Homo sapiens: one gene and its partner. The main gene of each other region encodes a partner of the protein of the gene in region 2 in a complex. Each region holds a gene or a part of one and is shown on either strand. Other genes may lie near its edges.

Region 1 (12,021 bases), on a different chromosome or scaffold from region 2:
CGAGACTTCCGTCATGCCCTGTGAGGACGACCATCATTTACCTACGGTTCAGTTTGATTTCACGGGGATTGATGACCTCGAGAACAAGTCGAAAGACTCACTTGTAGGTAAGCTCGTGTATGAGAAGGAAGAGCAGGGATGACTAGCTTTCTTTGCAGTGTACGGGGTGGTGTCAGGCTTCAGTGCTTGCCGTTCATCATTTGCTGGCGTCGGAATGGGAGTCTTGACCACCTCCTGCTAACACGTGCATGTGTTTTAGACATCATCGGGATCTGCAAGAGCTATGAAGACGCCACTAAAATCACAGTGAGGTCTAACAACAGAGAAGTTGCCAAGAGGAATATCTACTTGATGGACACATCCGGGAAGGTGGTGACTGCTACACTGTGGGGGGAAGATGTAAGTGCTGGGATGGGGTCTTCAACACGCACAGGACCTCCTGGGGTTGGGGCGTGGTCTTGTCCTATAGGATGGGGCCTTCAGCACACACAGGAGGAGCTCCTGGAGTTGGGGGAGGGAGTGGTCTTATCCTATAGGATGGGGCCTTCAGCACACACAGGAGGAGCTCCAGGAGTTGGCGGAGGGGGCATCTTGTCCTATAGGATGGGGCCTTCAGCACACACAGGAGGAGCTCCTGGAGTTGAGGGAGGGAGGGGTCTTGTCCTATAGGATGGGGCCTTCAGCACACACAGGAGGAGCTCCTGGAGCTGGCGGAGGGGGCGTCTGTTCCTATAGGATGGGGCCTTCAGCACACACAGGAGGAGCTCCTGGGGTTGGGGGAGGGAGGGGTCTTGTCCTATAGGATGGGGCCTTCAGCACACACAGGAGGAGCTCCTGGGGTTGGCGGAGGGGGCGTCTTGTCCTATAGGATGGGGCTGTTAGCACACACAGGAGGAGCTCCTCGTGGGGGCGGTTTTGTCCTATGAGTTGGGGGCTTTCACCATGTAGATGGGAAGGATTGTGCTGTCTGGTAAGTATTTAAAATCCTTTATCTTACTTCTGTGAGATTTGCTGTGATTCAAGCTTTACGCGGGGAAATGCTCTTTCCCCTAACTCTAGGAAAGCAGTGATAGTTTTGATGTGTCTCTGAGTAGATTCTCATGTGTGAGGTCTGTCTTGTATGGATTCCATGTACGCTGATTACATTCACTCTACTATTGAATGTTTGCCTTGTTTTCTATAAAAATCTTCTGTGTTCTTCCTGCTAGTGACACTTGTATATGTCTGGTGTTTCTTTTACAGGCTGATAAATTTGATGGTTCTAGACAGCCCGTGTTGGCTATCAAAGGAGCCCGAGTCTCTGATTTCGGTGGACGGAGCCTCTCCGTGCTGTCTTCAAGCACTATCATTGCGAATCCTGACATCCCAGAGGCCTATAAGCTTCGTGGATGGTAGGTTTTGTGGGGCTAAACAAAGGGTTACTTGAGGCTGGGCTTTGAGAAAAGCTGGTTACAATCAGCATGGGAGCTTTCTGCCAAGCAGAAGCCTTCGTCCCTGAGTGGTGCAGCTTCCGTGTTTCTTGAAGGCATTATGCCTTCTGTGAGGAGGGCTTTAAAGCCCTTAAACGGACAAACCTGTAATCCCAGGACAAACCTAGAGAGTCGGAGGAGGCAATTAGCATGTAAGTGCTGCCTGCTGACCTCGATCCTGCCAAAGGAGGGGACGGCCAGGCTTCAGCAGCGGTGTGCTGAAGGCGCCTTTCTTTCCAGGGTTTAGGCTCTGGGCCTCTGTGGCGTGGGGGAACACATGCTTTCTTTCTCTGTCAAGTCTTTGGTGCCGATCACATCTTCTAGTGTGTATTCACTAGACTCTGATCAAGTGTGGTGAGAACAATGGGCTTTTTGTTAGGATTAGATTGTTATTCCCAAAGCACTCAAGGGATGAGGAGAGCCTGTTAAAATCTCCTCACTGTATCTAGCTTTTTAGGACATTCAAACTCTGTCTTAAAAGAGTACTTCAAACTGAGACACAGGATGCAAGAATTGATGTGGTCAGGGAAAACACTTTCACCCAAGCTTCAATAATTCCCATAGCTGTAGTCTATGGGGGGGAAGTGTGTCAGTTTCCAGCTGTGTCTTAGGATTTAAGCAGCTAAAGAATGAGCTCATTTTACATACTCCTCCTTTGTTTTGAGTCATTTAAACCAATGGCACTGGTGTTTGACCAGTTTCATGAAGCATCTTCTGGAATGTTCATGTCACTGAGCCATCCTCATGAGTAGTACGGTCCACACGTATCTGCCGAACTGCAGGGCCCGTTCATAGTCTGACCAGAACTAGCCACAGATTTGCTTTTTTCTTATTGCTTGATTTTCTTTTAGGCTCTGGAGTTCGACTCCAGGTTAATTGCATTCCCACATTAAAATCGCATTCCCACATTAAAATTGCATTCCCACATTAATGTCTTCATCTTTTACTTGTCAATAATCATGATCCCAGTCAACATAAAAAGCACGGCTGTCCCCAGAATAAAATAACTTGGCATTGATCAAAGACAAGCTCAGTGCATACATGATACCTGGACAAGGATTAGAGATGTTTAGATCTTGGCTATAACAATGCAGAGTTTTTATTGTAAGAAGGGCCGCCTTGACTCCTGACGAGTGATCTTTGGTGGCAAATGTCTCCTTGGAGCTTTTGAAACCGTGAACTTGTGTAGCTAGTAGTGGTGAAACAGATGGATGGGCCTTGCTGTGCCCCTGTGAGGGATTTAGCCGCTTACCTGACAGGAGAAGGCAGCTGTCTGCAGCTCAGGGTAACATCCATTCTGTTAGATGGTCTCTGTTTAAGGAACCTGTTCTTTGTGTGGTTACCCACCTTGGGATGGTATTTGGCCTTTCATCTCCGGCCAGCTCCTCTCCGCCACCACTGTGTTCCCGAGCCACTTTCTCCTTGGCCCCTTTTCCTTCATATCAATTGATGTGTGATCAAGAAGTACAATCAGTTTTCATAATAATTTAATACAAATTAATTTAGCTTCGATATTAGCAAAAGTAAAATTTCACTAAGAAGGTAAATCTACAAGAAAAAAGATAATGCCTTCTGATAAGTTGCTCTGGTTTATAAAATCTTTTGGGCCAGGCACGGTGGCTCATACCTTAATTCCAGCACTTTGGGAGGCCGAGGTGGACAATTGCTTGAGGCCAGGAGTTCAAGACCAGCCTGGCCAACATGGTGAAACCTCGTCTCTACAAAAAATACAAAAATCAGCCGGGCCTGTAGTCCCAGCTACTCGGTGCGTGCCTGTAGTCCCAGCTACTCGGGAGGCTGAGGCACGAGAATCACTTGCCAGGAGGTGGAGGTTGCAGCGAGCCAAGTTGGTACCACCACACTCCATCCTGGGTGACAAAGCAAGACTCTGTCTCAAAACAAAAAAACCACTTTTGGCTTCTGTATCAGGCATAGGAGGCCTTTTATGGAAACACTTTTGCTACCACGGTATATTGGCTGTCCGTTTCCACACTGGTACATTTCGGTGATGATCACCACGCAGCTGCTGCCTGAGAATGAGCATTAGCAGATTAAAGGACTACCCCAGACGGCCACTTTATAGCTTACGGGTTGTTGACTTTCCCAGTTTCTGATTTTAGGCCTGGGGTGGTCTGGCCACTGCCAATATGCAAGGCTAGTTTAAGAAAAGATTCTTTGGTACTTTGGCACTGATTCTCTTCACCACTGGGGGGCATCAAAGCAACTGAGATTCAAAGAAAGGTCATTCCGTTTCTTCAGTAGACTTTGGGCCAGGAGCAGTGCCTCACGCCCTGTAATCCCAGCACTTTGGGAGGCCGAGGGAGGAGGATTGTCTGAGTCCAGGAGTTTGAGATCAGCCTGGCCAACAGAGCAAGACCCCATCTCTTAAAAAAATTTTTTTTTCGAGACGGAGTTTCGGTCTTGTTGCCCAGGCTGGAGTGCAATGGCGCCATCTCGGCTCACTGCAACCTCCGCCTCCTGAGAATTGCCTACAAGTGATTCTCCTGCCTCAGCCTCCCGAGTAGCTGGGATTACAGGCACCCACCACCACGCCCGGCTAATTTTGTATTTTTAGTAGAGACGGGGTTTCACCATGTTGGCCAGGATAGTCTTGATCTCTTGACCTCGTGATCCGCCCGCCTCATCCTCCCAAAATGCTGGGGTTACAGGCATGAGCCACTGCGCCCAGCCTAAAAAAAATTTTTTTAATGGGCCTGGGCATGGAAGTCCCAGTTACTTAGCAGGGCAAAGGTGGGAGGATCACTGAGCTCAGGGGGTCAAAGCTGCCTTGAGCCATGATTGCATCATTGCACTCCAGCCTGGGTGACAGAGTGAAACTCTGACACAATTTTTTTTAATTTAAATATTATAAAAAATATATAATTACGAAGATACCAGCTTCAGCCGACATGACCGTGACCTGTGTGAAAGCTGGGCGGGTGGTGGGAAACCTGTGTCTGTCGCGTAGCAGCAAGTTGCATGTGGAGAAGCAGAAGCATGTCACATCAAGCGCTCGTCATCGTTATTCGTTCACGTTTTCAGGTTTGACGCAGAAGGACAAGCCTTAGATGGTGTTTCCATCTCTGATCTAAAGAGCGGCGGAGTCGGAGGGAGTAACACCAACTGGAAAACCTTGTATGAGGTCAAATCCGAGAACCTGGGCCAAGGCGACAAGGTACCCAGCATTCCTAACCACCTTCACAAAGGGCTGTAAAGTGTGCAGAAGGATGGATTTAGAAACTTGGTTTCCAGCACCAGCTGTCAGAGCCGTAATTCTTACCCGGGGCTGTGACCTGAGCGTGGCATGGGGGTTGAGAATCACTGGCAGAGGGAAGCAGCCAGGTGTGCTCATGGGAATATGTGTTACCCCTCAGGGGACTGGAGGCAGGAGAGTCTGAAGAACTCTTAGAGTCAATTCCTAGAGGGATCTTGGAGCAGGGGTGACAGTCAAGCTTTGTGGTATAATATCACCTGCTTTCGGGTCCACGTTTCTTTCCTGTGATCCTTCCTGCAAATTTAAGCGCCCACATATCAAAAAGATGTTTTTTGAGATGAGCGTTAGTCCGCCTCAGGTCAGACATGAGGCAGTTTCACGGGTGCTGTTCCTGGCTGTAGAATAGTGTATTAACCTCATAGGCTGAGAGCTGCCGGCATTCCCGGACAAGGATTGGCCCTGACATTTGACTTTTAGTTGCAGCTTTTTCCTTTCAGTGTTTGTATTTAATGACCCTCCTCCCATCTTGATCTAAGCCTGTGTTCTGCCAGCAGTTTAGTATTTAGATCATTTATTTCTCCTTTACGCCTGCTCTTTTATTTTCATCATATACAGTGTAGGTTTCATTCCTCCTGTCTCATTTCACTGTATACCCTTATCCATCATTGTCAACAGCAGCTCTTAAGTGCTCTTATAGAACATCTCAAGAATTAAACACTGGACAGATCCTCGTTGTCCTGTCATGGGACACCCACTCTTTCGGTTCTCTGTAATCCCAGCTACCCAGGAGGCTGAGGCAGGTGGATTACATGAGCCCAGGAGTTCGACTGAGCAACATGGAAGACCCCTTCTCTTGAAACAAAAACTTTATTGCTGAAAAATGCTGACAATCATCTGAGTCGTAATCTTCTTGCTGGTGGGGGTTTGTTTCAGGGTTGATGGCTGAGCAGTCACGGCGATGGTTGCTGAACATCGGCGTGTCTTTGGCAGTTTCTTAAAATAAGACAGCAGTGAAGTGTGCCACATTGGTTGACTCTTCCTTTCACAAAAGCTTTCTCCATAGCCGGCGATGCTGTTTGACAGCATTTTACCCACAGGAGAACTTTTTCAAACTGGAGTCTCTCCCTCTCAGGTCCTGTCACTGCTTTATCAGCCAAGCTTATGCAAATTCTAAATCCTTTGTCGTCATTTCAACAATGCTCACAGCGTTCTCACCACAAGAGATTTCATCTCAAGAAAGCACTTTCCTTGCCCATCGTAAGGAGCAGCTCCTTATCCGTTCAAGTTTGATCGTGAGATTACAGCAGTTCAGGCCCATTTTCAGGCTCCATTTGTAATTCTAGTTCTCTCGTTATTTTCGTCACATCTACAGATCCCTCCTCCACCAAAGTCTTGAAGCCTCAGTGTCTACCTTGAGGGTTGGAATCAACTTGTTCCAAACTCCCGTTGATGTTGGGATTTTGATCTCCTCCCATGAATCATGAATGTTCCTTTTTTTTTTAACTTGAGACAGGGTCTCATTCTGTCACTCAGGCTGGAGTGCACTGGCTTGATCACAGCTCACTGCAGTCTCAACCTCCCCAGGCTCCCAAGCTGGGACTACAGGTGCTGCCACACCTGGCTAATTGTATTTTTTGTAGAGACTGAGTTGTGTCATGTTGCCCAGGCTGCTCTCAAACTCCTGGGCTCAAGGGATCTCCCTGCCTCAACCTCTCAAAGTGCCAGGAGTTACAGGTGTGAGCGACTGTGCCCAGCCAACTGTTCTTAATAGCATCTAGAATGGTGAATCCTTTTCAGGTTTTCAATTTACTTTCCCCAGATCCATCAGAGGAATCACTGTGGCAACTATCGCCTCATGAAATATGTCTCTTAGACTTAAAAAGTCAAAATTACTCCTTGATTTGCATGGGCTGCAGAATAGATGTTGTTATCAAGCATGAAAACAATATTAATCTCCTTGTTCTGTGCATCTCCATTGAGCCCTCGGGTGAACAGGTGCATTGTCAATATATTAATCTCCTTGTACTGTGTGTCTCCATTGAGCCCTTGGGTGAACAGGTGCATTGTCAATATATTAATCTCCTTGTACTGTGTGTCTCCATTGAGCTCTTGTGTGAACAGGTGCATTGTCAATATATTAATCTCCTCGTACTGTGTGTCTCCATTGAGCTCTCGGGTGAACAGGTGCATTGTCAATGAGCAGTCATATTTTTAAAGGAGTCTCTTTTTCTGAGTAGTAGGTCTCAACAGTGGGCTTAAAATATTCAATAAACTACACTATAAATAGATATGCTGTCATCCAAGCTTTGATATTCTATTTATAAAGCAGAGGCAAAGTAGATTTAGCATAGTTCTTATGAGCCCTAAGATTTTTGACATGGTCAATGAGCACTGGCTTCACCTTATAGTCCCCAGCTGCATTCGCGCCTAACAGGAGAGTCAGCCTTTCCTTTGAAGCTTTGAAGCCAGGCATTGATTTCTACTCTCTAGGACGAATGTTCTTGATGGCATCTTCTTCCAGAAGGCTATTCTGTCTACGTTGAAAATCTGTTGTTGAGTGCAGCCACCTTCATTGGTGGTCCTAGCTAGATCTTCTGGATAACTTGCTGCAGCTTCTCCATCAGCACTTGCTGCTTCACCTTGCACTTTTGTTATGGTGACGGCTTATTTCCTTAAACCTCATGAACCAACATCTGCTGGCTGCCATCTTTTCTTCTGCAGCTTTTTTTTTTTTTTTTTTTGAGACAGAGTCTCACTCTGTCACCCAGGCTGGAGTGCAGTGGTGCAATCACAGCTCACCTCAGCCTCTGGAGTAGCTGGGACTACAGGTGCACACCACCGTGCCCTGACAGATTTTTGTAGAGACTAGGTCTCACTATGTTGCCTGGCTGGTATCGAACTCCTTGGCTTAGGCAATCATGTTGCCTCTGCCTCCCAAAGTGCTGGGATTACAGGTGTGAGCCACTGCACCTGGCCTCTTCTGCAGCTTCCTGACCTCTCTCAGCCTTCACAGAATTGAAGAAAGGTGAGGCCTTGCTCTGGGTTAGGCTTTGGCTTAAGAGAATGTTGTGGCTTGCTTGATATTCTATCTAGACCACTACAGCTTACTCCATATCAGCAGTAAGGCTGTTTGCTTTCTTATTTGTGTATTCAAAGAAGAGAGACAGGAATACTTGATTGGAGGATCAGTCAGCATACATACAACATTCATCAATATAAGTTCCCCATCTTATATGGGTGTAGTTGGTGGCACCCCAGAACAACTACAATAGTGACGTTAAAGATCACTGTAGGCCAGGCGCGGTGGCTCATTCCTGTAATCCCAGCACTTTGGGAGGCTGAGGCAGGCGGATCACCTGAAGTCAGGAGATCGAGACCATCCTGACCAACGTGGTTAAAACCCCGTCTCTACTAAAAATACAAAAATTAGCTGGGCGTAGTGGTGCATGCCTGTAGTCCCAGCTTCTCGGGAGGCTGAGGCAGGAGAATCGTTTGACCCTGGGAGGCGGAGATTTCAGTGAGCTGAGATCATGCCACTGCACTCCAGCCTGGTGACAGAGCGAGACTCCGTCTCAGAAAAAAAAAAAAAATCACCATAACAGATATGATAATAATGAAAAAGGGCCAGGCATGGTGGCTTACTCCTATAATCCTAGCACTTCGGGAGGCCAAGGTGGGTGGATCACTTGAGGTTTGGAGTTCGAGACCAGCCTACCCAACATGGCAAAACCCCATCTCTACTAAAAAATACAAAAATTAGCCAGGCGTGGTAGTGCACGCCTGTAGTCCCAGCTACTTGGGTGGCTGAGGCAGGAGAATCACTTGAACCTGGGAGGTGGAGGCTGCAGTGATCAGAGATTACACCACTCACTGCACCCCAGCCTGGGCGACAGAGCGAGACTCTGTCTCAAAAAATACATATATAATGAAAAAGTTTGAAATCTTGCAAGAATTACTGTCTTTATGTGACACAGAGACATAAAGTGAGCACCTGCTATTGGGAAAATAGTGCATTTACTTGACCCAGGGGTGCCACAAGTCTTCAATCTGTAAAAAATGCCGTATCTGTCAAGTGCAGTAAAGCAAAGCACAATAAAGTGAGGTGTGTCTGTAGTTGCAGCAGAGACTGTGACCAAATGGCTGCTAAGGCCTGAAATATTTACTGTTTGGCTTTTTACAGAAGCAGCTTGCTGATCCCTGGCCTAAACAAGGAAAAGGTGAATCTAGGCCTAGACACGACTGCCGTGTTTTGAGCGCGGGAGGGATGGTTGATCGTTGCTGCACTGGGTGTTTGTGGTCCGCATTCTGTATTTCCTAGATCTGTGGCCTTTGGAGGGTCAGAGGATCGGGAGGAACAAATCTTTGTCTTTCATACAGTGTTCAAGCAAACAGGAAAACAATTTCACTTTTAATTAACTTAGTGTAATTTAGGATTAACTCTTTTATTGTGAAGGAATTATCTGCCTCAGAACTTGGCTTATTAGAACTTGGCTTATTACCTTCATGGGTTTTGTACTCGGCACATGTGATTTCTAAAACTACAGAATGAATGATTCCCTGTGATCATGTGTAATCTTGAGGATGTAGAAACACTTACCACCTAAACGTAAGGGCAGGCTTTGAGCTGCCTCTCGGTCCGATCCTGGGCGGGCTCGCGACTCCGTGCCTCATGCTGTTCTTTTCTCCCGAAGCCGGACTACTTTAGTTCTGTGGCCACAGTGGTGTATCTTCGCAAAGAGAACTGCATGTACCAAGCCTGCCCGACTCAGGACTGCAATAAGAAAGTGATTGATCAACAGAATGGATTGTACCGCTGTGAGAAGTGCGACACCGAATTTCCCAATTTCAAGTACCGCATGATCCTGTCAGTAAGTAGCCTCGGTAGATGAGAACCACGGTTGTGTTCACGGAGGCCCTCCCGTGTGCCAGGCACTGTGGTCACAACAGTAGAGACAAAGCATTCCTGGTAGGAAGCCCGCAGATGAGTAGGTGTGGAAGAGCTTATCCATCCGCTTTTTCATGCCAGAAAGTGGTGTTGAGATACCCCAGCTGATTCAGTCTTTCATGCACGTCATACAGCCATAGCGTCAGTGACACTTGCCTGCTAACTGCTATGAAGATAAATTAATTTGAAAACGGCATTTATAGACAGCACTAATTGTACTTACACAGCCAATGCCCGTATTTAGTCACTTTCATGTGGATAATCTATTCTCTAGCTTTAGTATAGCTGACTTCAGAGGAATGTGACGGTGTGCTGATGTGAGATTGTTGCTTTTTTGCATTTTAAGAATTGTTTCTTTCTGTTTTAAAAACCTTTTTAAAAAAGTTGTAAAGTTGGGTTTAAAAAAATTTTTTTTTTTTTTTAAGAAACAGGGGTCTCACTCTGTTGCCCAGAATAGAGTGCAATGGTATCATCACAGCTCATGGTGGCCCCAACCTCCCGGGCTTAAGCAGTCCTTCCACCTTGGCCTCCCAAGTAGCTGCAACTACAGCTGTGCACCACCACACCCAGCTAATTTTTAAAATTATTTTATTGTAGAGACAGGGTCTCGCTCTGCTGTTCAGGTTGGTCTCAAGTTCCTGGCCTCATGTCATCCTCCCACCTCAGCCTTCCAAAGTGCTGGCATTACAAGCCTGAGCCACTGCACCCGGCCTTAAGATTTTTATTTTGTTTTGTTTTGTTTTCAATGATAGAACTAGGCGATAATAGCAGTTTAAGAAAACAGTTTAAGGCCGGGCACAGTGGCTCACTTTTGTAATCCCAGCACTTTGGGAGGCCGAGGCGGGTGCGTCACCTGAGATCAGGAGTTTGAGACCAGCCTGGCCAACATGGTGAAACCCTGTCTCTACTAAAAATACAAAAATTAGCCGGGCGTGGTGGCGGGTGCCTGTAGTCCCAGCTACTCGGGAGGCTGAGGCAGGAGAATCGCTTGAACCCGGGAGGCAGAGGTTGCAGTGAGCCGAGATCACACCACTGCACTCCAGCCCGGGCGACAAGAGCAAAACTCCATCTCAAGAAAAGAGAAAAAGAAAACAGTTTCACATTTTTCCAAAGGATGATTTGGCAGTAATATATCAGAAGCCTGAAAAATGTTCATATTGGCCAGGCGCAGTGACTTGTGCCTGTAACCCCAGCACTTTGGAAGGCTGAGGCAGGATGATTGCTTGAGGCTGGGAGTTCGATATCAGCCTGGGCAACATGGCAAGACCCTGTCTCTACAAAAAGTAAAATTAGCTGGCTGTGGTGGTATGCACTTGTCCCAGCTACTCATGAGGCTGAGGTAGGAGGATCGCTTGAGCCCGAGAGGTCAAGGCTGCAGTGAGCCATGATCGTGGCACTGCACTCCAGCCTGGGTGACAGAGTCAGACCCTGTCTTTAAAAAATAAATAAATAGGCCGGGCACGGTGGCTCACGCCTGTAATCCCAGCACTTTGGGAGGCTGAGGCAGGCGGATCACGAGGTCAGGAGATCGAGATCATCTTGGCTAACACAGTGAAACCCTGTCTCTACTAAAAGTACAAAAAAATTAGCCAGGCGTGGTGGCGGGCACCTGCAGTCCCAGCTACTAGGGAGGCTGAGGCCGGGGAATGGCATGAACCCGGGAGGTGGAGTTTGCAGTGAGCCACGATCGCGCCACTGCATTCCAGCCTGGGTGACAGAGCAAGACTCCATCTCAATAAATAAATAAATTAAATTAATAAATGATAAATAAAATGAAATGTTAGCTTAGCAGGACAGTTCTACGTTTAGGCTCATTTTTTGTAAACTATAAACTTTTCATTGAACTAAGATGAAGAAAATTTGTTTTAGTTTGTGGAAACATCAGCCTTTCTGTTAAACTCCACAGCGCAATCTCCCGCACACTTGTTTGATTTGATATTTATCACACGTGTGCGTCATTGTAGTTCTTGCCCTGTGTGATGAGATGCTCTTTGCTTCTTAGAAGGATAGCGTGGGTTAAAGGAAGTGTGAGCCCAGGGTGTGATACCGTTGCTGTGTATTGAGAGCGCTTTTCACTTTTAACTGGTTTCGTCACCTTATTTTTCGTCATAACATTCTCTCTATTAAAAGCCTTGTACCCATGCAAAATGAAGATGTAAAATCGTCAAAATGATGCCTTAAAGAAAAACCACTCGTGTTTCTACAAAGGCTTTTACTTCAGCAAGTGGATTCTTTGAGATCTGCTTTCTTCCTTGACTTTGCCCTGTTTAATGTTACACCACAGCCCAGTGGGAGACATTTGATTGCTCATTTCCTTTGCCAGGTCAATTTGGTGACTGACAGAGGCTCACGGGCAGGCTCTTCAGTTGTCTGGGTGCCCAGCAGTGACAGAG
Region 2 (12,021 bases):
AACAAACCAATAAAGTTTTCCTTGACCACAAGTCCTCTATTCAGATACAACCACCTTTCCTTCTTTTTTCAGCAGCCCTCTTCAAAACCTGCCTCCACTGCTTCCTCCGCCCTTTCAGCTCCCATTCTCTCACCAGCCCCCTCAGTCCAGGCTTTTATTCCCTCCCCACAGCCCTGGTTTTCCTTCTATCTCACTCACACTCCTTTTTAGTTCCTCCTCCTCTGCCAGATCTCTAAAAGCTGGGAATACCCCAGAATTCTGTCATCAGGCCCCCTCCTCTATCTGCAGTCTCTCCTGAAATTAACTCACCTAGTCCTTGCAATATCACTACATGCCAATGATTCCCAAGTGGGCCTTTCCTACCCTACTCCCTGCTGAGGCTCTAAACTCCTCTACCAACCACGGACTTACTCAACAAGTCCAGGTACATTTCCAATTAGTAACTTAAACAACAGCACGCCACAAGAGAACGCTTTATTTCCCCAAACGAGTTCTCCTCACATCTTTCCCATCTCAGGAAATGGCACTGCTATTCCCCAAATTGCTTTAGCCAGAAATCCAGGAATCATCCTGGATTACTTTCTCTTTTACCTCATCACATCTAATCAGAAAGTTATACAGACTCCATCTCCAAAATGCATCCACACTCCAACCACAGATTACCAGCCCCACTCTTTCACTAGGCTCTCCCCATGATGACCTCCTACTGGTCTCCTCACTTCCCCTTCACTTTCCACAGTTCCCTCTCCACAGAAGCCAGAGGGATTGTTTATTTTGTATGTATGTATTTATTTATTTATTTATTTTTGAGACAGGGTCTCATTCTGTCGCCCAGGCTGGAATGCAGTGGCACCATCACAGCTCACTGCAGCCTCAACCTCCTGGGGTCAGGTGATCCTCCCACCTCAGTCTCCTAAGCAGCTAAGACAACAGGCACCCAGCACCACCCCCAGCTAATTTTTGTTTGCATTTTTGGTAGAGATGGGGTTTCGCCATGTTGCTCAGGCTGGTCTTGAACTTCTGGGCTCAAGTGATCCGCCCACCTTGGCCTCCCAAAGAGCTAGGATTACAGGTGTGAGCCACTGTGCCTAGCCTTGCTTTTTTTTTTTTTTTTTCTTTTTTTTTGAGACAGGGTTTTGGTCTGTCACCCAGGCTGGAATGGGACGTCACAATCACAGCTCACTATAGCCTGGAACTCCTGAGATGAAGCAATCCTCCTACCTTAGCTTCCTGGGTAGCTGGGACTACAGATATGCACTACCAAGTTCAGCTAATTTTTTACTATTTTTGTAGAGATGGAATCTCACTATATTGCCCAGGTTAGTCTCAAACTCCTGGGCTCAAGCGATCCTCCTGCCTGGCTCCTGAAGGTGTTGGAATTACAAGTGTGAGCCACCACACCCAGCAGGGATTGTGGTTTTGTTTTTGAGACAGGCTCTTGCTCTGTCACCCAGGCTGGAGTACCATGATGCAATCACAGCTTACTGCAGCCTCGACCTCTCAGTCTCAAGTGATCCTCCTGCCTCAGCCTCCCGCGTAGCTGGGACTATAGGTGCATGCCACCATGCCCAGTTAACTTTTGTATTTTTAGTAGAGATGGGGGTTCACCATATTACCCAGGCTGGTCTCAAACTCCTGGGCTCAGGCGATTCTCTCACCTCCGCCTCCCAAAGTGCTGGGATTACAGGTATGAGCCACCATGCTGGGACTATGTTTAAGCAGGCATCAGATGATATTACACCACTGCTTCCAGCCCTCAAATGAATTCCCACTGCAAGCAGAATAAAATCCCAACTCATTCCCGTGGCCCTGCCCATCTCTCCAACACCAGCACCTGCACCCTCTTCCTCGCTCACTAGCCACCTTAGCCAACCTTCCTCTGTTTTGTTTTGTTTTGTTTTTGAGATAGAGTTTTGCTCTTGTTGCCCATGCTGGAGTGCAGTGGTGCAATCTCGGCTTACTGCAACCTCTACCTCCTGGGTTCAAGCGACTCCTCCCTCAGCCTCTCGAGTAGCGGGGATTACAGGTGACTGCCACCATGCCTGGCTAATTTTTTGTATTTTTAGTAGAGAAGGGGTTTCACCATGTTGGCCAGGCTGGTCTCAAACTCCTGATTTCAGGTGATCCACCCGCCTCAGCCTCCCAAAGTGCTGGGATTACAGGCATGAGCACTGCACTAGGCCAACCTGCCTTCCTCTTTGAATAAAATCATTCCCTTTCCAGGCTTTGCATTATCTACATCCTCAGAGGCCCCCATGCTGCTCCTTGGTAACATTCAGTGCTCAGCTCACATGTCACCTTTTTAGGGAGGCATGACCTGGTCAAAATAGCACCTCCTGCCCACCACACCCCCTGCCATTCCCTATGTCCTTGCCTTGTTTTTCATCCTCATAGACTCTTAATCTGAAATTTGATTTTCTCTTGTATTTATTGCCTATGCTGGAATATAATGTCCACAAAGCCGGCACTGGTGCGCTTTCCTCCCTTAACATTTAGATCAGTGACTGGCAGGTTTTTATTTTTATTTTTTCAATGTTTTGCTAAATGTTTTTTTCAAATGCTGAATGAGAAGGAGACAGAAAAAGGCATTCAAGATGAGGGACACAGCAAGAGTCAAAAGGAGGATGAAAAAGTTTGATTCATTTTAGTGAGTTGAAGACACTAGCTTGACAAAAGCAGAAAAAGCATAGTGGGAAATGAAATGATGTTGAGAAAACTGGAATCAAATTGAGAAAGGTCTCAAATGCCAAGCTAAATAGTCTAGAATTTATGTTGTAGGCACCTGGGAGTCTCTGAAGCTTTTGAACAAAGAAGTGAATCTTAACGGACACCTGAAGCCTTGAATACTACCAGACCCAAATGTATTGGTTTTTCCTATACATACATACCTATAAAAAAGGTTAATGTATAAATAGGCACAGTAAAAAGTTAGCAACAATAACATAAAAAATAAAGCAATTCAGTAAAATAAGGATCACTTGACACAAGCACTGCAACACTGAGACTTACTCCGATAACTAAGATGGTGGCAAGTGACTAACAGGTGGGGAGTGTCCACAGTGTGGACACACTGGACAAAGGGAGGATTCATGGAATGAGATGGTGTGAGATTTTATCACACTGCCCAGAATGGCATGCAATTTAAAATTGACGAATTGTTTATTTCTGGAATTTTCCATTTAATATTTTTGGACCACGGTTGACCATGGGTAACTGAAACCTTGGAAAGCAAAACCATGGAAAAGGGGGAATGCTACATTACGAGAATGGGAACAAGAAAGGGGAGGGCAGCCAGGTCACCAATCATCCAAGAAGATGGTAGAGAGTGAAAGGAAGGCGAGTCCATGGTGATTCTAAGACTTTAAGCCATGTAACTAGGAAGATGGTGATTGAAATGGAGAAATTGGAAAAGAGAGTAAGATTCTGGGCTGTGGTTCCAGAAAATCAATTTCTGGGAACAAAGATGCAGATTAGGCAGCTGGTTCATTAACTCCTCTTCAGTGCCAGAGCACTCAGCAAATCACCACATTACTGATAGCCGACTGTCTCCACCATGACAATCAGTGTGAGAGTGAGAACTGTCACTCACTTATCTCTAATTCCTGGTGCCTGAAATGTTACTATAGTCAAAACTTTGTTAGCCAAATCACTGGTGCCAAGGAGATGGCTGAAACTGTGAGAATGAGTCAGTTCTCAAAGGAAAAAAGAACTGAGCTTTGGGGAGTTGTCTTCAGTTAGAGGCTGGGAAGGAGAAAAGGAGTGAGGAAATGAAGGGGAAATCAGACAGTGAGGTAAGGGAAATTTGACAGAAATGAGAAAAACAATTGTTTTTAAGTCCAACAGCACAATGCAACACTAATAAAAGCACACAGTCATTTATAAGCACACCGAAGTTAGCGATATTTAAATAAAACTTGGGAACATGGAAACATCACTCCTACCATAAAAATTTTGCTTGGACTTTCATCATCATTCACACCACAGGTTCTTTTGGATGCTCGCGATTTTGGTAAATCATCATCTGTATCTACTCCATCAGGTGAAGATAATTGCCATCTTTCAGCAAAGGTGAGTGTCCTCTCATCAGGCGAAGAGGCCTCGCTCCAGGTGACATCATTTGTCATGGCGTGGTCTGTGACTACAGGGAGTGGAGATGCTGACGGTGTGCTGGGTCCTCCACTGTCTCCAGAGCTCTTCCGTGGGGACGGAAAATCTGCTGGAGGTGCGCCGCTAGAGGAGAGCTTACTTTGCAAGAAATGTTTCAAACGAGTTTTTCTAGGAAAACTGTTTTTCATAATGGCATTCCGGAGCTGAGACTCCTCTGCAATCACATACACTCGGCAGCGGCCCCTGGTCACGGCGGTGTAGACATGCTGCCAGTGCTGGCGGCCCGCCTTCCCCACCACATAGACAACTGTTTGCTCCTCGGACCCCTGGCAGGAAAAATATGGTGTGAAGACTAAATGCTATAAAATAGGTTCAGACAGTTTACAGACAAGGAAAGGAGACAAGTGTTCAAAGTGCTCTCAAGCACTTCTACCTGGCCAGACTATTATTATGTGTCCATTTTATGGGTTCCATTTTTATTCATCCTCCAAGAACTCTAAACACACTGCTAAACATGCTGCTAAGTTCAGGTTTCATAGGTCCACAACTGGCTTGTAGAAACCCAGCAGCAAATTTTAAAGACTGCATGCAGTATTAAACCTTTCCTAATAAAAGACTGAAATGATGGTACAGGCTTCATGTGTAAATGTGTTAACCCATTATTACATATAATGGCAAAATATGAAAACTTTAAGTAGCCAGTAATAGGTAAACATATAGATATATTATATATAAATATATGTATAAAAATATTACATGTAATGATAAAATATAGAAATTTTAAGTAGCAATAGGTGAATATATATTATATACTTATATATATAATATATACACAGTTGACATACTATTTTGTGAACATCAGAGATACTTTAAAGCCACATTTTAAAAACCATATATATATCTATATATATATATAGACAGATAGATAGATACACACACACATAGAGAATGGTCAAAACTGTATAGCAATATAGTTACTCTGATCCAAAACAAGTATATAAAAAAAGAACATAGCTATGTACAATGAAACAAAACAAATCACAAAAAAAGAGAGAAATTCTACCAAATTTTTTATTAATGTCTCCAAATGGAAGGCCTATGGATGACTTTTTTTTCTCCTACTTGTCTGTATTTTTCCATTGTTGGGCAATTTATTTCTTTTATCAAGATAAAAAAGAAAACAATGAACCTTTGTCTTTTAACAAAAAATTGGATAGGCAAGAAAAATACTCAATATCACCGTGTAACTGTAAGAAAACAATTTCAAGTTTGAGGGCTATTCTTAGTCCTATATTCTGAGTCAGCGGATCCAGTGCCAACACAGACAAAGAAGTGGTTTGTACCATTATCTCCCCCATTGCTCTGACATTGCTCCTGCCAAAGGAAAAATTGTGGGAAGACAACTGACAAGATGGGGCAAGTAAAAAATACACATCCGCTGCAAATAAACTCTTGCTCAGCAAGCTCTTCTATCTTCGTAGACAGAGAGTTTGAAGCAGCTCCTCAGATTGTAAAAGTTTGATAAATACATCTTTCCGATGTTGCTGGGTCTCAGAAATTGACATAAATGGTATTTGATTACATACATTTCCACAGATATATGGCACCACTCTTCACCTTGGACTTTATATTGTACATTCTCAAATATGAAAATGTCTACCTAAACTCAGCTAACCTAGTTCTTAATTATTAAGCAACACTGAGAAAAATATAGTAATAATAGTAGATATACTATTATTAATACTTAATGGTCTCATTATCAGTCTCCCTGTACCTTCTCTTGCCCAATCCATCATCCTCATGGCAGCCACAGTGATATTTGTAAAATGCAAACCCAATCATATTAGATGCTGCTTAAAACCTCTAATGGCTCGCAGGGACTCCAAATAAAGTCCTAACCCCTTAATGTGTTTGTAAAGCCCTTCAAGAGCCAGCTTGGCCCTGCTCCTCTCCTTACTTTTTTCCCTTTCTTTTCCATGAACCATGCTCCACCCAGCACAAGGGACTTCCAGGTCCTGTCAGCATTCCTCAGTCCATGGCCTCAATTTGGCCCATGTCTGGAGTAGCCGCCCCATCTATTACTCTCCAGCACCCTGTACTTCCTCTATCACAGGCTGGAAGCTCCATGAAGGCAGAGCTTCACCTTTATCCTACTCACTGTTCTTTCTCCAGTGCCTCACTGAGTGAATGATGATTAAAAATTAAAATGTCATGCTACAGGAGCCAAATATCTGCTGTCCCTGGAATTCTGCACTCCAAGATGGTACTTAAGTCTACCTCAGAAAGTAAGACACCTAACTTCACCTTGATAACCTGCTATAAATAATTTCCTCATTGCTTTAAATCTCCCTTGAAAATCAGAACTGTCAAACTGCTTAAGGAAGTAAGTTTCCTATATTTACTTTTAATTATGTATATGTCTATTCTATAAATTGGTTCTACAACTCAACCACTTGTATGAAGAGCCACAAAATCTTCAACAGCTCCCCATTTCACTCAGGTAAAAGCCAAAGTCCTTAAAATAGTCTAGAACAGCACTGTCCAATACAAATATAAAATAAGTCATATATGCAGCTTAAAATTTTCTAGTAGTCTCATTAAAAAAGAAATGGATAGAATTAATGTTAATAATATACCTGTATTTTACTTAAGCTAACATATCCAAAATATCATCATTTTAACATATAATCAATATTAAGTTATTAATAAAAGACTACATCTTTGAAATTCTATATTTTATACAACCAGAACATTTCAATTTAGATACTAAATTTTCATCAGAAATACTTAATCTATTTCTAGAGTTCATAAAATTTGTAGTTGAAAAAGAAGATTCACATACCCAAGTTATTCCAAACATAGTTTTTCCAACATACAGAAGTTTTCCAATGACTGTATCTAGTAACTTTTGTTTTGTTTATTTGTTTTTGTTTTTGAGAGAGGGTCTCACTCTGTCACCCGGGCTAGGAGCTCACTGCAGCCTCCAGCTCCCAGACTCTGGAAATCCTCCCACCTCAGACCCCCGAGTAGCTGGGACCATGGGTGCATGCCACCATGTCTGGCTACTGTTTTGTATTTTTTGTAGAGATGGGGTTTCACTATGTTGCCCAGGCTGGTCTTGAACTCCTGGGCTCAATTGACCTGCCCACCTCAGCCTCCCAAAGTACTGGGATTACAGGTGTGAGACACTGTGCCCAGCCTAGTATCCATTTTTAAAATTAAAATTTAGTTTTTCAGTCACTCTAGCCACATTTCCAGCGCTCAATAGCTACACGTGGCTAGTGGCTAACATACTGGATAGTGCAGGCCTTCAAATGCCCTAGGAGGTGACCTGGCCCCACCATCCTCCTGCCCTCTTTACCTCATATTAATTTTCCTGTCTCATTTCCTGTCAGTCTCCCACAGTGGCCACCTTGCTATTCCTGCTTCTCAACTATACCAGACAGACTCTCACCTTAGAACCCTGCCCTTGGTTATTCCTCAACCTGGAATGCTCCTGTCCCAGATACTCACATGACTAACTTCTTTTCCTTCTTCAAATCTTTGGATAAAATGTTATCTTCTCAATGAGGCTTATATCGACATTCTATTTAAAATCACAATTGCACCCACTCCCACCTCTTTTCCACAGGATTTGCCACCTTCTAACATAACACAGAGTTTTCTTTCTTGTTTTTATTTTTTTTATTTTTATGACTGTGTCTGTCTCTATCCCCTTTCCCACCAAATTTAAGCTTCACAATGGCAAGAATCTTTGTCTGTTTTATAGACTGACCTGTACCAAACACCAAGAACAGAGTCTCACTCAGTAAGTATTTGTTGAACGGAATTGAACTTGGAAGAAACAGTGTGTTGATATAACAATCATGAATGTTCTTAGAGCTAAGAGATGCTACTTCAACCATGAAATAACCAGAAAGATATCTACTCCAACCTCAACCCAGTAATAATAAAGACACCTTTACTCTTCATTCGTTCTTATTAAAAAAAACTGGATTATAAATTTAAGGAAATCTCTCAGAAAATAGAGCAAAGTGATGAGAAGGAAAATAAGACAGTTTGATAAGAAATTTAGGTAACTACTTCTGGAAGTCTAATATGCACATATTAGGAATTCTAGAGAGACAGAACAGAGGAAACTGAGAAAAAGAAAATTTCGTAAAGGTGAAGGATGGCATCATAGAGATCCACGGAAGAAATTCTTCAGGACCCAGAGCCAGAAATATTACACTTTTACTCTCACTTTACCTGGGGAACTTTGGTCTTAAGGGAACTTAAAGCCAAATCTGCAATCGACATTAGCAAACAGGGAAGCGGGCATGGCTGCATTCCAACCACCCCTGGCAAGAACCATTTTATCATCCTTATTTTTCACTTGACATCCTTTCTATATAAACATATATATATATATATTTTTTTTTTTTTTTTTTTTTTTTTTTTTTTTGAGATGAAGTCTCCCTCTGTTGCCCAGGCTGGAGTGCAGTGGCACAATCTCAGCTTGCTGCAACCTCTGCCTCCCAGGATCAAGTGATTCTCATGCCTCAGCCTCTCAAGTAGCTGGGTTTAGAGGTGCCCACCACCATGCCCAGTTACCTTTTTTGTATTTTTTAGTAGAGATGGGGTTTTACCATGTTGGCCAGGGTTGGTCTTGAACTCCTGACTGCAAGTGATCCACCTACCTCGGCCTCCCAAAGTGCTGGGATTACAAGCGTGAGCCACCACACCAGACCCTTTTTTACCTTTAAAAAAAAAAAATCAGCTGAATTGTGGGCATTTTTAATAAGCCATTTCAAATTCTTTTTGGAATCGAGATGGGGTAAGTTAATAAATAAAGCCCCACCCACTTAAAAAAGAAAACAAAACTCTATGCTAATTAATGTTTGTTTACTAGTAGAAAATTTGGGCTGACCTAAATTTTTCTGCATAAAAATGAGGGTTGGGCCGGGTGCAGTGGCTCAGGCCTGTAATCCCAGCACTTTGGGAGGCCGAGATGGGCAGATCACAAGGTCAGGAGTTCGAGACCAGCCTGACCAACATGGTGAAACCCCGTCTCTACTAAGAATACAGAAATTAGCCAGGCGTGGTGGCATGTGCCTGTAATCCCAGCTACTCGGGAAGCTGAGGCAGGAGAATCACTTGAACCTGGGAGGCGGAACTTACAGTGAGCCAAGATCGCGCCACTGCACTCCAGCCTGGGCGACACAGCGAGACTGTCTCAAAAAAAAAAATGAAGGTTGATGCAACCTCTCCATTAAAGCAACATACCAACAGCAGAGAAGGAAGCTCAAAACAAAGAGATAAATAAGAGACTCACTAATAACAGATGAGAATTCAAGGGCATTAAAATAAAGCATAAAGGCAAGTTGCACTAAACTCAATATGCTGTCCTAGAACAGCAAAAGGACATTAATGGAAAAACTGGTGCAATTCGAATATGCATAGTTTAGTTAGCAGTCTTACAGCAATAGTAATTTCTTAGTTTTGACAAATATGCCATAGTTATAAAATGTTAAACACCAAGGAAAGCTGGGTGAAAGGTATATGAAAACTCTCTGTAGTATCATTCCAACTCTTCTGTAAACCTAACAATATTCCCACATAAGTTGGGGGCGGGGGGATAAAAGGTTGCCTCACAAAGATGGAGAGAGAGGATACATTTGTCAAAACTCAACCAACTTTATAATGAAACTGTATGCACATTATACCCCACAAAGTTGATAAGGCAAAAAATAAAAAATAAAAGCTAGTTGCAAAAGTATAGAAACATGATTACACCATTTACATAAGCCTCAGTAACACAGAAAACAATCATATATATTGCTTCTACATGAATAGGAGTGATATATACCAAATTCGGGGCAGAAGTCACTTTGGAGGAAGGCGGGAGGCAGACCCAGGACTAGGGCAAGGCAAGTGAGGAACTCACCTCCAGTACAAAATTTAATGGGTTCCCAAGAAACTCAGCAATCAAGATAAATCAAGACATTTTAATGTAACAGTTTTGTAAATCAAAATTAAGGCACAAAAGGATCCATGATGAACAAAATATCAGAATTTAACCAAAGATAAGATGAGTACAGTGCCATGCCAAGCCATACTGGAGACTCAGGCAGGGAGGGGAAGACCTGAAGGAGGAGACTTTACCTATAATGCCTTTGTTTCTAAAAATAAAGAGAGCTCTGGAGCAAAAAAGAGCAAAAGGGTGGCGTCTTCTCTATTATGTTCTGTACTTTTGTGTATTTTGTTTCCTAATTTTTGTTTGCTAATAAGTGCAACAAAAATTTACGAAAACAATGCAAGGCGCTCTAAGGTTGGTAAATTATTTAAAAGGTTTGATAAAAGTCTCCTCTTACCTGAAAAGTGTGAATAGTTCTTGCCCATGCATGTTTTATGCGACAATATTTCATTAGTTTCTTAAAATCCACAGTTACTTCCAGGCCAGCCATATTATTAATGGTCAAAGATCTTCTCTTTCCAAAAGTTACATCAGTTACATCCTGTCACCAAACCAAAGAACTATTTTGCATACCTTCAAATATGTTCTACGTTCAAATACGTTCAAAGATATTCTATCTTTGGGTCAAACATAAAATATAAGAATTACAATTACCATTAAGAATTTCAAAAGGCTTAAAATTTGCATTTCAGCACAAACAATATATCTATACCTAAATATTTTAATAAACACAAATAGAAGTTTTCAGTCTTTGAAACTTATCTTCAATTTGACTCTGTGAAGAACAGCCTGTTATTTCTTATTTTGAAGTCTATACATTCATTTCTTGTATTGACTACATAAGTCTGAGTAGATTCTTTGCAGTTTACTTTTCCTCACAGCTTTCAGTGAGGGTATCTACACTGTGAGAACAAATACAAGGCAACCACTTCTATAGTTTCTACATTTAAGCAGCAACAAAGGAAATGATGCTTTTTAAAATCTATGTCTCATTTATGCCTTGTTTTTTGTTACTCAAGTACTTCGATTTTATTAAAAATGTTTCTTCATAAAATCTTCTAGAAAATATAAGAAGAAGCACTTCCCAACTCATTTTCTGAGGCCAGTATTATCCTGATATTAAAGCCAGACAGGACATTACCAGATAACTACCCATATCCTTCATAAACATGGATGCCAAAAATCCTTAACAAAAAATCATGAAACAAGAATGTCAACTGATATCATTAGATTCTGAATGAATCCTAGGACAATAAAATAACCAAACATATCTCTAATTAGTTAAAAGATATTATCTTCTGTTTTCACTTACATTTGTTATGAAAAATATCTCTCCATTGCACAGTCGAACGTTACTTTCAAAGTCACGCTTATTTTTAGCAAAATCAGGAAGCGTACCAGAAAAGTCTTCACTACTGGCATCTAGATCATTATTTTGCTGACTTCCAGAGATATTTTCAGGTAGTAAGTCTGAGAGGTATGCATTCCTGGTACAACAAATTTTATCACCAATTCCAAAAACAAGTCTACTCTGATGGTCTCTGGGATAGAAAATGATAATATATAATCAAAGTTTGGAAAGTCTCCGTTTCACTTGTTCAAACATTAACTACTACTCAGACTCGTTTCAATTTTCAGAATAATTTCCACATTTTATTTACAACACTTTCATTCTCCAATGAGCAACAAGAAATCAGGTTCCCATAGCTGTCATCTGATTATTTATACATACTCCCTGCAACGTCTCAAACTCAATGACATTTCCCAGTCAAATTTTTTCAAGTTAGAAATTTTGGCTTAAATGCTGATGTCTCTCTTTCCCCTTATATTCTAAAGGTTAACACAAATTTTGATTTTTTTCCTTTAAAATTAATCCTCTGCTCTCCAATCTCTCTTATCATTACCTTATTTGAGGTCTTACAGCACTTATACACATTTCTATTGTAATAATTATGGCA

What was found.
Region 1: the proteins of HELB (region 2) and RPA1 are in contact, whole or in part, in a crystal structure (PDB 7XV1), measured with the Homo sapiens proteins. Residues at the interface, in NP_001357214.1 of Homo sapiens: Glu496, Glu499, Val500, Lys502, Ala503, Cys504, Asp506, Phe507, Glu508, Asp510, Asn512, Ala513, Glu516, Trp517, Thr519; in NP_002936.1 of Homo sapiens: Asn29, Ile30, Arg31, Ile33, Arg41, Arg43, Leu44, Leu45, Ser54, Ser55, Met57, Ala59, Thr60, Gln61, Arg81, Ile83, Asn85, Leu87, Arg91, Val93, Ile95, Met97, Glu120.

What each region holds. Positions count from the first base shown.
Region 1 is NC_000017.11:1,879,301-1,891,321, forward strand, and holds part of RPA1 (replication protein A 70 kDa DNA-binding subunit), read left to right. Parts: coding exon 1-107; intron 108-259; coding exon 260-399; intron 400-1,242; coding exon 1,243-1,391; intron 1,392-4,511; coding exon 4,512-4,644; intron 4,645-9,374; coding exon 9,375-9,551; intron 9,552-12,021. UniProt on the Homo sapiens protein: As part of the heterotrimeric replication protein A complex (RPA/RP-A), binds and stabilizes single-stranded DNA intermediates that form during DNA replication or upon DNA stress.
Region 2 is NC_000012.12:66,323,566-66,335,586, reverse strand, and holds part of HELB (DNA helicase B), read right to left. Parts: intron 11,605-12,021; coding exon 11,376-11,604; intron 10,681-11,375; coding exon of another isoform or gene 10,666-10,680; exon of another isoform or gene 10,605-10,665; coding exon 10,461-10,604; exon of another isoform or gene 10,075-10,460; intron 4,434-10,074; coding exon 3,942-4,433; intron 1-3,941.